Linked DNA regions of Homo sapiens: region 1 is linked to region 2. A link means that fine-mapping ties the variant in region 2 to the expression of a gene that starts in the linked region. Tissue or cell type: fibroblasts. Region 2 holds a variant in brackets; the other region holds the start of a gene. All regions are shown on one strand. Distances are from middle to middle.

Evidence for each region. PIP is the estimated chance that this variant, and not a neighbour inherited with it, causes the effect.
Region 1: HOPX starts here. The variant in region 2 is fine-mapped to the expression of HOPX in fibroblasts (GTEx, PIP 0.99).

The regions. Positions count from the first base shown.
Region 1 is chr4:56,678,048-56,686,387 of GRCh38, forward strand. HOPX (HOP homeobox) reads right to left here and starts at 3,249. Exons shown (of 4, transcript NM_032495.6): 1 at 3,208-3,249. LOC105377666 (a long non-coding RNA gene) reads left to right here and starts at 5,186. Exons shown (of 3, transcript XR_941078.3): 1 at 5,186-5,343; 2 at 6,477-6,631. RefSeq lists a silencer at 3,247-3,296.
Region 2 is chr4:56,636,697-56,645,036 of GRCh38, forward strand. No RefSeq gene overlaps it. Among named protein-coding and RNA genes, the nearest start is that of HOPX, 40 kb to the right of the region's middle. RefSeq lists an enhancer at 4,055-5,254. The variant T/C (reference allele first, on the strand shown) is at 4,879.

The DNA.
Region 1 (8,340 bases), 41 kb after region 2:
TGGAGGCCCTGAGTAATTCTTCTAGTTTGCTGCCCCGCAGCATGTCTGGGTTCCAAGGATTCGCTTGGAAGGTGCTGGATACCCTATCCTCGCTGGAGCTGGGAGTGTCCAGAAGCAGCCTCTTTCTTTACCTTTGAGCCTCTGTTGCTGTGTTCCCTGAGCCTCCCAAGCCTCATCCTACTCTCGGACTTGGTGGTCAGGTGGCATGGGGCCATCCCCATCCTCTCTTTGGCCCTTACTGTCCTTATCTGTCAAGTGAATGGTTTTGATTTCACTGGTTTTCATCCCTAGCTGCACATTAGACTCACCTGGGGAACTTTAAAAACCAATCCCAGGGCTGCACACCTGGGGATTCTGATTTAATTGGTCCAGGGTGGGGCCTAGTCACTGATTTTTTTTTTTTTTTTTTTTTTTTTGAGACGGAGTCTTGCTCTGCCACCCAGGCAGGAGTGCAGTGGCACGATCTCCGCTCACTGCAACCTCTGCCTCCCAGATTCAAGCGATTTTCCTGCCTCAGCCTCCCAAGTAGCTGGGATTACAGGCGCTCACCACAATGCCCAGAATAATTTTTGTATTTTAGTAAAGATGAGGTTTCACCATGTTGGTCAAGCTGGTCTCGAACTCCTGACCTTAGGTGATCCACCCGCCTCAGCCTCTCAAAGTGCTGGGGTTACAGGCATGAGCCACCATGCCCTGCCCCAGTCACTGATTTTTTTTTTCTTTTTTAAGTTCTCCAGGCCCCACAACCACTAGGTTAGATTATCTCCAGGGACCCTCCCAGTTCTATAAAAGTCTATGATCCTTACTGTCTGGTCTCTGTGCTTTACTGAATTTATTTTTTTCTCCATAAATACTCATCTTTTATGTTCAGCATGTTACATAGGCTGATTTTTAGAAATGCTTTTACTTATTTAAAAATTATATTGTTGGTTAGGCACAGTGGCTCACACCTGTAATCCCAGCACTTTGGGAGGCCAAGGCAGGCAGATCGCTTGAGCTCAGGAGTTTGGGACTAGCCTGGGCAACATAGCAAAACCCCATCTCTACAGCTGGGTGTGGTGGCACAAGTCTGTGTTCCCAGCTACTTGGGAGGCTGAGGTGGGAGGATTGCTTGAGCCTGGGAGGCAGAGGCTGCAGTGAGCCGAGATCGTGCTACTGCACTCCAGCCTGGGTGACAGAGTGAGATCCTATCTCAAAAAAATAAAAATAAAAATAATGTGGTTAAAGTATTGTTTGTTGGGAGTAATCAGCTATAATACTGAATGTTTAAAGTACACAATTTGATAAATCTTCCCATATAAGAAATGGTCACAGTCACAATAATGAACATATCCATCACCCTCAAAAGTTTCCTGTGTACCTTGGGAGTCCCCCCAAACATTTTTTCTCCTGCCCCTACCTTCCCAAGTAACCATGGATCTTCTTTCTTTCTTTTTTTTTTTTTTCTTAAGACAGAATCTTGCTCTGTCGCCCAGGCTGGAGCGCAGTGGTACAATCTCAGCTCACTGCAACCTCCGCCTCCCGGGTTCAAGCAATTATCCTGTCTCAGCCTCCCGAGTAGCTGGGATTACAGGTGCCCACCACCAAGCCCGCCTAATTTTTGTATTTTTAGTAGAGACGGGGTTTCACTATATTGGCCAGGCTGGTCTCAAACTCCTGACCTCAAGTGATCCGCTCACCTCGGCCTCCCAAAGTGCTGGGATTACAGGCGTGGGCCACCGCACCCAGCCACTTTCTTTTTGCTATAGATTAGTTTGCATTTTCTATCATTTTATACAAATGTAATCACTCAACACATCCTATTTTGTGCATGGACATAACATCTAATTATCTCCCTGGACTTTAGATTTCAAGCTCTTTGAGAACAAGATCCATTTTTTCTTTTCTCTTCCTCTTGGCCTTCAACTTATCTTTTCTCAGATATAGCCCTTAATCATTATTTGCTTGATTGACATAAGACCTTCATGAACTTAAAACCAAGCTTCAGTTTGGTGGCTAAGAAGTGCCTGCCACGTTGAAGGTTTTTAACTCGCCACCACTTCTGGAGAGGTTCCTCAGTCGGCAGCTTCAGCCCAGTTAAAAAAAAATAATAATAAGCATATGAGCTTCATTTAGGTCCGTGGACTTCTAGGAGTCCAGAAAGTGAGAGTCAAGGTGTGGGTTGGGGTGTGGGGTGGAAGGGGAGGCTCAGGAAGCGAGGAATGAATACCTGAGAAAGGTCCTTGGCTTTCACCAGATTCTTGATACAAAGGGATAGACTATGGAATTAATGCCCTGCTCTATTCCTATCTGCTTTTCATGAATCTGTTGTTTAATTATAAATCCTTTACTATCTGCTCCTCCCTTCTCCTCCCTTCCCACCTCCCCAGCACCTTCGTTTTGTTCTCTGCCTGCCCTGGTTATACTTAACCTTACTTAACTAAACACACTACAGGGCCCTGTCCAGTAGCAGTGCCACTTCATGGGAACTGTTTGCATTCCTTTTCTCTTTAAGAGCTTCTTATCTGAACTATGTGATAGATTGTACCTTTTTATTCAATGATTCTTATTCCACTTTACTTAACAGTTTACCCTGAATACTTGGATGCCACTCACATATCACAAACCTATACTTTCTCTAAACCCCAGAGCCTGGGATTCCTTTTCATCTCAAAAAAAAAAAATCACTGTTTTTGTTGTTATAAATAAGTATTATGAGAACCAGAAGTAACAATAAACTGCAAATTCAAAATCAAGCCACTTCTCCATCCAGAGACAGCTCCCTCACTTCCCCTTGTCAAACACAAAACATATTTTAAAACGATATTATGTCTGATTTTAGATAAAAGTCTGGGATGTAGAATAACAATAATCTGCTTCTAAATGAGAAAATCATAGGCATCTGACAAATGCTGGTTTCAAAGTTATCTTTCCAAAATAGAAGCGAGTAAGAAAAACATCTCACCTGCTTGGCCAAAAGACCAACACCAACTCCCCTTCCTCCAAATTCCCCTCGACCCCATGCAGTTTTGTTTGTAAGGGACTGATGTCTTACACCCAGCAGCATTTCCTAGCTTCTGCTTGGGGGTAAGCTTGTCATTCCTATTCTCCCTTTCACCTCTACCGTTTTCCAACAGATGAGCAAATACGGTAACGATAGCATTTTGGTCTAGTTCCTGCACAAACTCATTCCTCTGCATAAAAGGCAGACCTTTGAAAGGTACTTACGTGGAAGAGGCAAAGGCAAGCGCAAGCCCTGGGTTTGGAAGCTGTGTTTGCTGATGCCAGCCTGCTTAAATAGCTGGGCTGGCTGACGCAGGCTGCTGATAGCACGTTTATTTACGCCTATGAGCACACACTCGAGCAAGGACCTGAAAAACCTGCAGCGTGGGCAGGAGGTAAACCACTGAAAGTATGCCGAGGTTACGTCTCTCCTGGTTATTCAGGTTTGATGTTCAGGCTGGGACTTCTGAGAGTCTCATGGAACTTTCTCGTCACTATCTTCTCGTCCCTGACCTCTCTCCTAGCCAAGCAAGCTTCTTCACCAAGATAGGATAAGAGAGATGTGGCTGAGAGAAGACGGGGAAGAGAAAAGGGACCCTGAGTCTTCTCATCCACTTCCTTACTTTGAGCGAGTTTCCAGTTAGATGTTGCCTCATTTCAAAGCGTAGATCTGGTGCGGTTGATTTCACAGCTCTGAGAGCTGGATGCCAAGCTAAGAGCCTGGACAATTGCCCAATTAATGAAAGGTTGTTTTCTTTTGGGCACAGAATGTACACATAAAGAACAGTTAAAAGGGAGAGATTCGGGCTAGGATGATACAGTTTTAGGTCTCCCTCAAAAACGATTCTCATTTATTTCCCCTGCATCTGTACTTTCCTCTTACCATCCCCTCCCCTTCGTTAATGAAATTCCTGTCTAAGAGGTGAAAGATTCCCCATGGGCTTGCGAATAAAAAGCCAGTGTGTGAGCAAGTCTGTGGGAAGATGCATGCAGAGTGTGACAGAGAGTTTAGGGGCTCGTGTGACAATCCGTGGAAATGTTTCTAAAGGCGAGGGTATGTGTGTGGGTGTGAGGACCCGGCTGTTGGATGTTTACGTATTTTATTAGCTAGATACGGGAGCTAATACTCAATTGCAGTGCACTAAACATTATTAGGTGGGTATGATTTTGAGGGAATGAGGGAAGGGAGACAAGGTCTGGTGAGATCATCTGTGGGATTATCTGTGTGTATTTGCTGGTTTGTAGCACAAACCGGTAAGTGCCATCCAGAGAGCCACACCCTATATTATTCACTTCAGCAGAGAAAGAGAAAGCCCACTTGAGTCTCTTGGGAACAGTAGCCATATGTGAAAGAAGAGCAGCGCTCATTCAGAATACCTCTTTCCCTCTTGGAAAAGGGGGTGACGGTTATAAAACATGTGTGGGAAAGAGTAGAGACAGGGGGCCCAGGTTAACCCAACCTTGGTTACCAGAGGAATTCTTTTGTTTCCTGCCTAATTCAATGCCTAACTTCTGACCATTCTATGGCCAAATCTGGATTCTTGCTGCCACGATTTTTTGAATGGGCAGGGTCTATGTCTTGTTTATCATTTGATACCCACAGCATTATTATTATTATTGTTGTTGCACAAATTATTACTATGACAGCACAAATTATTATGATGATGACAATGGTGATGATCCATAATCTAGTAAGACTGACTGTGTGTCAGGCTCCATGTAAGGACTGTACAGAGAGTTTGTCTGCTTATTTAATATGTAATACAATAACCCTATGAGGTTGTATTGTTTTTTGTTTTTCACTCAGGCTGGAGTGCAGTGACACGATCTTGGCTCACTGCAGCCTTGACCTCCCGGGCTGAGGTGATTCTCCCACCTCAGCCTCCCAAGTAGCTGGGACCACAGGCACACACCACCAGAAGTGGCTAATTTTTTGTAAAGACAGTATTACACCATGTTGCCCAGGCTGGTCTCAAACTCCTGGGCTCAAGGGATCCTCCTGCCTCAGCCTCCCAAAGTGCTGGGATTACAGCCGTGAGCCACCATGCCCGGCTGAGTTAGTTTTTTTTATTATCGTTATTTTACAGAAGAGGAAACTGATACTCAGAAAGACTAAATAACTTTCCCAAGGTCACAGTGAATGGTGGGGGTGGAATTTGAATCCAGTTCTATCTGATTCCAGAGTCAGGGTTTCACTCAGGACTGGCTTGAACCAATACTTAGAAAGTTGCCTAAGAGTGTTTTCACCTATCCTTAATTGTGTTTTTGTTTATCATCTGTCTTCCAGAATGTGATTTCCATGACAACAATGACCTTTCTGCATTGTTTACTCCTGTGATCCAGAACAGTGCCTGGCACTTGGTAGGTGCTCAATAAATATGTGCCATCTGTTCAGTTTCTAAATTCCCGTGGAGGCAGTACAGCCCAACAGATAGAGGTCCTGGCATCAACAGAGTCTCATCCTGGTTCAGATGAGACATTTCTTTTTCTCTTGCATAATGTGTCAACTTCAAGCTGTTTCTCTTTATCCGGTGTATCATGGAGATTAAAGAAAAAGTGATTGAAACCATGAAGCAGTTTTTACATCACTTGACTCTGCAGGTAGCAGGTATATGGTTCCGGTTGATTGGGGGTGCAGTGATGAAACCAAGACCTCTAGCTTTTTCCATCTTTCATTTTGTAGCTCTCAGTGTGACAGCATTGTCTCTCCTCATGGTGGTAAGATGGCTACAGTAGCTCCATTCATCATATCTTTAAACAAAATATCCAAAGACAGGTAAAAAGTGTCCCAGGCTTTCTTTCTCCTAAGTGTCTTTCCTTGTTAGAGAGGAAAACCTTTTCAGAAATCACTAGGAGTCTTTCACTTATGTCTCCTTGCTGAGCACTGGGTTGTGTCAGCCAACACATTGGCTAAATCCATCATTTTCAAAGAGGAAAGGGATCAGGCTGATCATGGTTCCTCTCCTGGGTCTAAGGGAAGAATCCACCTTCTCCAGACAAATTGCTCTGATCATCTGAACAAAATCAAGATTCATTTATTAGTGAAGAAGCAGAAATGTGCTACCCACAGTTTTGCCAATCTAAGAGATCCTTTAAAATACAATAACCTAAACTTCTTTCATGCTTGGGCACCAGTCCAGCCATGGCAATTGGGTTTTACTATATCAGTTCTCTCTTTCTATGCTTTTTTTTTTTTTTTTCCCAGTGAGATAAGTTTGCTTTGGCTCTCAGTAAAATTAAGAGTATTTCAACAGCCTGCAAATAAGGGAGGTAGCTGGCCACTAATTTTTTTCCTGCAGGTTTAGATCCTAGGTCTTTATATCACCACCGATTTCCAGGGACTATCACACAATCTGTCAGCCTCTTGTCTTCTCCTGTGCCAGATGGGATTGGATGATGCTGTTGATTTCTTAGAGAAGTTGGGTCCAATAACACAACTAATTATAAAAACATGACTCATTTTCCTGCTCCTCCTGTTGTCTATTATATTTCAGTGGAATTCCAGGATCCCACATGTTTGCCTCTGCCTCTGCCTGAGAGCTCCAGCTAGTGCCTGGGTTATGTAAACTAGAGACATATGGCTGAGATGGTAATTCTCACATAGTTCTTTTTCCCCTGGTGATTAACAAACTTCAAATTACCACCCACAGTAAGTGTTATTTTTCTTCTATTTGCTGTTCTAAACCTTTTCCTTGCCACAGGTTTTGGGAACTCTTTTCTTCAATGGCTCAAATCAAGAGAATTAGGAGGAAGAATGGGGTCGTGGGATGTTCCTCCGCAAGAGAGGAACAATGCCTGGGGGAGGAAAGGGCTTCAGTAAGTGTTTACTGTGACTGGACAAATGGTGGAAAGGAAAGAGTGTGGGCTTCTCAATCCTGCAGACTTGCATGAGGTCCCACTACTTCTGCTTACCACCAATTTGATCAAGGGTAACTTATATAACTTCTCTCTGTTTCCTCATCTGTAATATGGGACTGATGAGAATTATCTCACAAGTTCGTTGTAAGGACTAAAGATATGTAAAGCACTTACATAATACCCAGAACATAGTAGGCGCTCCATAAATGGGTAGCTACTGCTAATAGTTACAAGAAGAAGCTGGATTTTCCTATCCTTGGTCATCTTTGTGGAACCCACACAAAATATGAATAGGGAGCATGCGGACCTGAGAAATTATGCAAAGAGAGAAAAGCCATTTCTTGGGGAACACAAAACTACCAAGGACATTTCAGTAAATTCACAGTGAAGATTCTAAGCCTCCCAAGGGCCCAAATCTGACCTATACAGAAACAAATGAGGAAGAGGGTAGCCAGAGGATAGAGGCGAGCTTGCTGAGAATTCTGCCCCCAAGGTGTGAACTTGCAAGCAGAGAGGCCGAGAATTTTGCAGATGCTGTGGCAGTTCGAACTCCCAGAGAGCCCTTCCTGGCCCAACCTGGCTGGCACGTAGAACAGTGTGGGAAGCAGAAGAGGATCAGCCAATGGCAGAGAACCTGGACAAAGAAAAGGATGCCAACCGACTGAGGATAGAGACATTTCCCTTGGCTCCTCCTGGCAAAGGACTTCTCAGGTTTCCTGCTGAGAAGGGAGTGGAAGCTATGACATAATCACACTCTGTATTCTTTGTAGTTTGTTGTAGGCATGGTAATTATTAAGTCATCCTTTCGGTTCACTGTATATACTAGATTCTTTTTTTGAGACAGAGACTCGCTCTGTCACCCAGGCTGGAGTGCAGTGGTGCGATCTGGGCTCACTGCAACCTCCACCAGCATGTCCAGCTAAAATAGTTTTCTATATATATATACATATATATATACACACACACTCACACACACATATATGTTATATATAATGTATTATATATAATGTATTATATTGTATTATATATAATGTATTATAATGTATTATATATAATGTATTATATATTATATGATGTATTATATATTATATAATATATTATTTGTATTATATATTATATAATATATTATTTGTATTATATATTATATCAATATATTATATATTACTATATATTAATGTTAATATATATTAATATTAATATATTAATATATAATATAATAATATAATATATAATATATAATATAATATATAACATATAATATAATATATAATATAATATATATATAGTATTTTTAATGGGAACAAGGTTTCATTATGTTGGTCAGGCTGGCCTTGAACCCCTGGCCTTAAATGATCCGCCCCCCTTGGCCTCCCAAAGTGCTGGGATTACAGGCATGAGCCACTGCACCTGGCCTACTGTATATACTAGATTCTAGGTGTGGATTCTACCATCTTTCTAATTCATTTGTGGTCCTATGGAGTGTTAGGTGAGTTGATGACC
Region 2 (8,340 bases):
AGAGTTTGCCACCAGGCAAATGGAGGCTGGGGCAGAGTGTTCCTCTGTGTTTTCAGTGTCTTTGACTTAACTCCTCAAAATTTTGGGGAGAAATATTTTAGGTTTTTTAAATGGCATTACAAAGTTCAAGCTATTTTGGCATTTAGTAGATACTCGCTACAAGTTGGGAGAATTACGTTTATTTCATTTTTTAAAAGTGTCTTAAGTGCCTATTATGTGACAGACACTGTGCTAGGTAGGGCAAGAAAGCATGGTGAACAAGACAGAGATTTCTACTTTCAGTAAGTTTTTATTCTGAGGAACTGTATTCGTTAGAGTTGGATAACGACCATAACAAAAACACATAAATACTCAATTCTCAGTGGCTTAGCACAATAAAAAATGCATTCTTCACCAAGTTCATCTTAGAATAGTGTGGATTGCTGAGAAGACAGGTATTCTGTTCCATGCAGTCCTTCAGGATCCCAGCCTCCTTCCATATTTTTTTATGTCCACAAAGTCTTCTCCATTAAGCCAGCAGATTAAGAAAGAGAAAGCCAGGAGATTGCACAGGTAGTTTTTATGGCCAAGCTTGAAAGTGGTATACACTACTTTACTCACATTCCATTGACCAGACTCAGTCACATGGCCACACCTAACTGCAAAGGGGATTGAGAAAGGTAGCACACAAGAAAAGAAAACATGATTTGGTGAACATGTAACAGCCTGTACTGCAGGAAACAGAATAAATAAGTGGATATAATCCAGTGTGGTAACTGCTGTAACATGGGGAGGTAGAGTGCCTGATAACATAGAAGAAGGATACCCAACCCAGATGGGGTTTAGGCAGGGAGAATATCTGTACGAACTGATGTCTAAGCTGGAGCAGAAAAAAAAAGTCCATTTCTCTTTAGAATAGTGTAACTTGTTCACTAATGAGATACCCCTTGCATGAACAATTTGTTTAAATCCAAAAACACTTTTTTACAAGGTAACCATTAGAAAACAATAAGCCCTTTTAATGGGTTGCTCTGGTTCCCTGCTTTAAGAAATAGCATAATGTGGCATACACTATTGACTGTCCAATAGCCGTTCCTTCCTTCTTCCTTGATAAGAAAATGCCAGTTTTCTTCAGCCATTAGTCAACAATGTGTTCTAGGAAAATGGGCTCTAGGAAATGGGCTATAATTGGTCTAAGCCAACCATGGTAATCCAATCCACCTTTCATTCATTCAACAAATATTTAATAAGCTCCTGCTATGTGCCAGTCTGTTCCAAGTGCTGATTGTCTTTACCAATTATAGGCATGGAGTGGGCATGTGGCCCAACTCCAGACACTGAGAGGTAAGGGAAGACTGCTAAGGAGCTTCTGGGAAAAGGCTTTTCCTCTGTGATAAAATAAAATGAGAGATGCCTGAAAATAAAGCCAGGACCTTTCCTGTGTTTGGATGATGTCATGTAGGATGTGATGCTTGGAACTGGAGCAATCATCTTGGGACCATGAGGAGAAAGAGAAGAGAATCCCAGAAAGGATGATTGAGAGCTCTGGCCTAGTCAGGCTGTTGAATTAACTGAACCTGGAATGACCTACAGAAAAACAAAAAACCTGATATGCCACTTTCAGTTGAGTATTCAGTCACTTGTAGCAAAAAGTATCTTAACAAGTATGCATGATTTTGAATTTTGTTTTCATTGTTTGTTGTGGATTAGAATGGGTGAATTTTCTTTTTTTTTTCTTTCTTTCCTTCTTTCTTTCTTTCTTTCTTTCTTTCTTTCTTTCTTTCTCTTTTCTTTCTTTCTCTCTTTCTTGCTCTGTCTTTCTTTCTTTCCTTTGTTTTCTTTTTTTGAGGTGGGGTCTCACTCAGTCACCCAGGTTAGAGTGTAGTGGCACGAGCTCGACTCACTGCAACATCTGCCCCCTGGGCTCAAGTGATCTTCCCACCTTAGCCTCCCAAGTAGCTGAGACCACAGGTGTGCACTGCCACACCCAGCTAAATTTTTTTTTTTTTTGCATTTTTGGTAGAGATGGGGTTTCTCCCTGTTTCCCAGGCTGGTCTCCAACCCCTGAGCTCTGGATATCCATCTGCCTCAGCCTCCCAAAGTGCTGGGATTATAGGCATGAGCCACCATACCCAGCCTTGGTGAATATTTCAATAAATGGATGAAGAATCTGACTTTTTCATTTTCTTCCTAGCTGTGTTGTTGATCCTACAGGAATTTCTGTCCTAGGCATCTTTGTGGACAACAATCATATTCCATTATCTTGTTGGCGGCCCCTTTGGCCACTGCAGATTCCCTGTTGGAAGCTGATGTGTTTGGAGCAAAGTCGCATTCTCTATTCTGGATGAGGTTATCTTTCTCTAGGTCCCCTACCTGTGGCCCCTCAGGGAGGACTTCCAAATGAGGCTGTTTGTTTGTTTGCTTTTAATGTAGAAGAGGCGTCTCCTCATTTGAAGAGTCAGCTTTCTTTCTGTGAACCTCGTCAGCCTCCCTCTCTCCTCTCTCTCTTTCCTCCTCTTTTGTTTTTTTGTTTTTTTTCCCCCACCATGCAATGAGTTGGGCTGTGAGCTATACTTTGTGGCTGGTGAGATTTTTGGAGGCCTCCCCGAACCTTGTGTCCCCTCTCGAACCTCATCTTGAGTTGTAATCCCCAGGTGTTGAGGGAGGAATTAGGTGGGAAGTGATTGGACCATGGAATTGGTTTCCCCCATGCTGTTCTCATGATAGTGAGTGAGTTCTCATGAATCTGATGGTTTGGTAAGGCAGTTTTCCCTGCTCTTGCTAGCTCTGTCTTATCTGCCGCAATGTAAAGAACGTCTTTGCTTCCCCTTTGCCTTCCGCCATGACTGTAAGTTTCCTGAGGCCTCCTTAGCCATGTGGAATTGTGAGTCAATTAAACCTCTTTTCCTTATAAATTACCCAGTCTCAGGTAGTACCTTTGTAGCAGTGTGAGAATGGACTAATACACTTGTTCAAAACAGAAACCTGGCAAACTTCATGCCCTAATTTAGAACTTTCTGCCTGAACTCAGTGGAAGCCCAGCTGAGGAATTAATTGGTATGTCAATAATACTTGAACTGAATATTGAAAATATTTTGGAATAAGCTTTAATTTTGGAATAAGTAGGTCAAATAGCTTTTTACTGGAATGATTTGGCCTAGATTCACAGATATTTTGGATGCCACTGCTTCTCACTATCTTGATGATGACAACAAAGGGGATATCTTTTCTATGCACTGTGAGACTTGGGTGCTAGTGCATGTTCGCTCTGCTTATAATCTAAAAGATCATCCTTTGGGACTTACATGTCTTTCCATTTCTTATGTTATTGGCTGTTTTGACTAGTAGCTATCATTTGAGGAAGAAGGATTGGATAGGTCAGGATATTGACAGAAAATAGATGGCAGAGGTAATTGAAGGCAGTTTAATGAAGGAACTCTACAAAGGTATGAAGAATATTAAGGGACACCAACAAGGGATAGTGAAGCATTGGGGCTAACAACAGTTACCACCTCTAGGCTTGGGTCAAAGGGAGGGTCAAGGGGAAGAAGATGTTACCAAAAGCTGGAGAGACCTGTAGCTGTGTAGAGGGCCCTCCTGATAGAGGCCATTGTCTTGAGAAGAAGAACGTAGTCACTGCTAAACTGCAAGTCTAGAAGCCCAGAGCTGCAGCAGATTTGAGGGAGTTGGAAATAAACCACTGCTTTGAAAACACTAAGACTGGAGGTTTTTTGTTAGTGCAGTTAAACCTAGTATTTCCTGAATAATGCAGAGACTCAGGCTCTTTCTGCATGGTTGTCCTCCAACCCTAAGGTGTTGCTGTCACCCATGCAGCTTCGACAGTAAGATGGCTCATTACTATGCTTGCATTCTAGGAAGTGGGAAGGAGAAACAAGAAAGCATACTTATTCCTTTTAGAGGCATGACCCTGAAGTGCACATATTACTTTCTTGGCCACACGTAATGTTCTAGTTATCTATTGCTGCATAACGAATTATCCCAAAGCTTAGCAGATTAAAACAACAAACATTTATGATATCAAATAATTTCAGGAGCAGCTTAGCTGAGTGGTAGTGGCTAAGGCGCTGCAGTTATCTGAAGGCTCAACAGGGTCTGGAGGATGTACTTCTAAGCTTACTTACTTGGTTGTTGGCAGAGCTCACCTCCTCACTGGCTGTTGTCAGGAGGCCTCTGTTCTTTGCCACATGAGCTTCTCAACATGTAGAGCTGCTCAACATGCTTCTCCCAGAGCAAGTAATCCCAGGGGGAAGAGAGAGAGAGAGAGAGAGAGAGAGAGAGATAGAGAGAAAGCTTAGTGTCCTTTAGAACCTAATCTCAGAAGTGACCTAGAAGTATTTCTGCTTAATTGTGTTAGTCAATTCTGTGGCACAATGTACCAATTCTGTGGCACAATGTGGGCAGGGACTATGCAGAGGTGTGAATACCAGGAGGCAGAGATTGTTGGAGGCATCTTGGGGGCTGGCTAAAAACCTGACTATAAAGTAAGTGAGAAAACGTAGACTTTAGACACGCAGCCATCTCCCAGATAAAACTACTGAAAGAAGGGAAAAAGAGCTAGGGGACAATCAGAATTCTCTCCCTTAACCTGCCCTTCTAGCTACATAAATACACATATGTAGTCTCCTTTTCATACATGAATACATGAAATGAAACTATTTCTCTAGATTACAGTTCCTGTGCCCCTGAGGATTCTTCCTCTTAGGGTCACTATCCCAGGACACTTGACTTCTTCACTCCCAGAGAATGCCAAGTTTCTATCTAAAGAGCTTTTTTTTTTTTTTTTTTTTTTTTTTTTTTTACAGGAGTGGGAAGAGAGAGCTTCTATCTGGAAGAAGAAAGAAAGAAGAAAGAAACGCCTTCTGCATTACTAATCTGGAA[T/C]GCTAGGGCTGATTCATATGAACCATGAGTCAGTTTGTCATTGCATTTAGTAGTTGGATGAGTTATATAAGTTGAGATTCAAATAAACGTTTCTTATGTTTTTCTAAGTTTAGTTGGCAGACTCTTCTAAGAAGCCACATTGATATTTGTTTACAGGAGCACATTCCTCATGCAGCAGCACTCACTATCTGTAATGATACAATTGTCTTGGTGAAGGTAAAGGAGAGGGTCTCTAGGAACCTTTGCTCCTCTGTTTCTATAATTGTTTCTATAGAGCTCACCAGGCTCATAATGCCAGGTTTCATAAAACCAAAAATCTTATCTCCTGCCTTGCCAATATAAGCTGTGGCTGATGTCCCGGATCCTTGCCTGACTTGTGTCCACTTCACTACCTCTTAGCACGTCCATCATGGGAAAAGAATGTGAAATTTCAAATTATTTGTATTATTACCACAATTGTTATTAGTCACTCTGACATTGAGTTGAGACAAGGATACATTTGAACAGTTGATATGAGGTTTTTTTTTTTTTTTTTTTTTTTTTTTGAGACGGAGTCTCGCTCTGTGGCCCAGGCTGGAGTGCAGTGGCGCAATCTCGGCTCACTGCAAGCTCCGCCTTCCGGGTTCACGCCATTCTCCTGCCTTAGCCTCCCGAGTAGCTGGGACTACAGGCGCCCACCATCACGCCTGGCTATTTTTTTTTGTATTTTTAGTAGAGACGGGGTTTCACCGTGTTAGCCAGGATGGTCTCGATCTCCTGACCTCGTGATCCGCCCGCCTTGGCCTCCCAATATGAGGTTTTTAAAGGACCTTTCAGTGGACAATAGAAGATGTGGAACAAAGTTTACACATGAGGACCAGAGTTGAGAGAGAGTAGCAAAAAGTCTCCAAGAAGGTAACAGGCCAGGTGCAGTGGCTCACACCTGTAATCCCAGCACACTGGGAGATGAGGCAGAAAGATTACTTGAGCCCAGAAGTTCGTGACCAGCTTGGGCTGTCAAGAAAGAAAAAAAATAGCCACGTGTGGTGGCAGGTGCCTGTAATCCCAGCTACTCTGAAGGCTAAGGCAGGAGGATCCCTTGATCCAGGGAGATCAAGGCTGCAGTGAGCTATGATTGCACCACCATATTCTATGTAGCCTGGGTGACAAAGCAAGATTATGTCTCTATTTGTTTTTTAATTTTAAATTTTGAAATAGAGATGAGGTCTCACTATTGCCCAGGCTGGTCTCAAAGTCCTGGGCTCAAGCGATCTGCCCACCTCAGCCTCCCACAGTTCTGGGATTACAGGTGTGAACCACCATGCCCAGCTGAGACCTTTTCTCTTAAAAAAAAAAAAAAAAAGAGGGTAACTTATCTGCCATACATTTGTATATAGTTTTAAAAATTATGTAACCCCTTGAGGTCCATAAATTCTCCACTTGTCAGGGGTTATCTTTTCTTTTAGTATGTAAAAATAATTTTTCTCAAGTTCCCATTGGCTGAGAAAAATCTAGTGCTACTTCTGGTTACCTCTTACTATGAATCTCTGGTTCCCCTATATTCTTAATTACACTAGGGGCTGAGATTCCTCCCTCCATGCACTTCTCTCTTCCTTTATTTGCTCTCCCATTAGTAAGGGCTCTTTTTTATTACAAATGACAGATACACTGAGAAAGGGATTCACTAGTTCACAGAGCCAGGAAGGCTGGGGTAGCCCAGGGAAGAGTGGGAACCAAGGCCTCAGGACTTTCTCATTCCCATCTGCCTGGCTTCATTCCCTCCCTTTACAGAATGGCTTTCTCCATGAGTCCGAGTCAAAGGCTACCTGCAGCCCCAGCCCTCCATCTTCACAACTCTCCATGAAAGGTGACAATGTAGAACCATCTCTCCAGGTCCAATTGCAACAATTCTGGCAAAGGACTTTGGCCCAGCCTAGGCAACATAGTGAGATCCCATCTCAAGAAAAAAAAAAAATTAGCCAGGTATGGTGGTGCATGCCTGTAGCCCAAGCTACTAGAGAAGTTAAGGTAGGAGGATCCCTTGAACCTGGGAGGTCGAGAGCCCATACTTGGTTCAGTTCATGTATGCCAAGGGTTATGACGCTGTCATTGGCCAGCCTGGGTCTAACTGTCATGGGGGGAGAAATCTGGGGAACTGTGATTAACGGCTCTATCAGGACCACATGAAGTAGAAGTAGTTCCCCAAATGTGAAGGTGCTATTACCAGAAAAGAGGCAGACAGAAGCCAGCACTTTCACTGTCTACGGCCTCCTGCAAGCGCGGCTCAAGCAGATCCTTCCCCAATCCCTAAAGCATCACCAGTACAAGGCCATTTTGTGAGACAGAGCTGTTGGGAAGGTTGAAGACAGCAAAAAACAATTACAGCATAGTGACAGCAAGCCCAGCACTGTATAGATAGTCATTGAAAATAGAACATTTGATATTTTAAAGTTCCTAAGCCCAGTCCACCAGCCTCTCACTGGTGCCTTCTGGGTCAGCTGACATTGTGCCTGCCGTCCCTTACCAAATCGTTCTCCTCCACCTCTCCATTCTCCAAGTGCCCATGGATCCTAAACGTCATCCTACCTGAATCTCCGTGGGACAAATGGTATTTTATTGTGCACAGCCACTGAGTTCTTTTTTCCTCGTCTTCTAGACCTATATTTCACAGCCCCCAAAACTATTAAGATGTTTTCCTAGGCCGGGTGTGGTGGCTTATGCCTATAATCCCAGCACTTTGGGAGACTGAGGCGGGCAGGCCACCTGAGGTCAGGAGTTCCAGATCAGCCTGGCCAACATGGTAAACGCCTGTCTCTATTAAAAATACAAAAATTGGCTGGGTGTGGTGGCATGCGCCTATAATCCCAGCTACTGGGGAGGCTGAGGCAGGAGAATCGCATGAACTCGGGAGGCAAAGGTTGCAGTGAGCCGAGATTTGAGCCATTGCACTCCAGTCTGGGCAATAAGAGCAAAACTTCATCTCAAATAAAAAAAAAAAATATGTTTTCCTGAACAAGACAGCCAATTTTTTCCTTAGGAAGCATCCTTCCATCCTCTCAGAACAATGGTTCAATCTGCTGCTAGCTTCTGAATTAAGTTCTTCTCCCTGTTGCATGTGTATTTATGCATAGAAAACATGCCTTCCCCCAATATGATATAGCATAATATTAAGGTTAGTAAGACGTTACCTCTGTGTGGTGGGATCATGGGTAATTTTTTACAGTGTTTTAAACATTTATTAGTTTCATTAGGCAGGGGTTTCCCTCTCCCTAATTTTTGGAGCCCGATCATGTGTAATTTTTATGAGTTTTGTTGGTTTTATCATTTCTTTCTTTTCTTTTTTTGCTTATTTCTATTTCTACAATGAACAACTGAAAATGGTACAAGGCAAGAAAGGAGTGAAGAACAGAACCTGCTGCTTAAGTCCCTTTTATCAAGAAATGCAAAAGCCTTCCCCAAAGGCTTTTTGACCTCCCGCCTTTG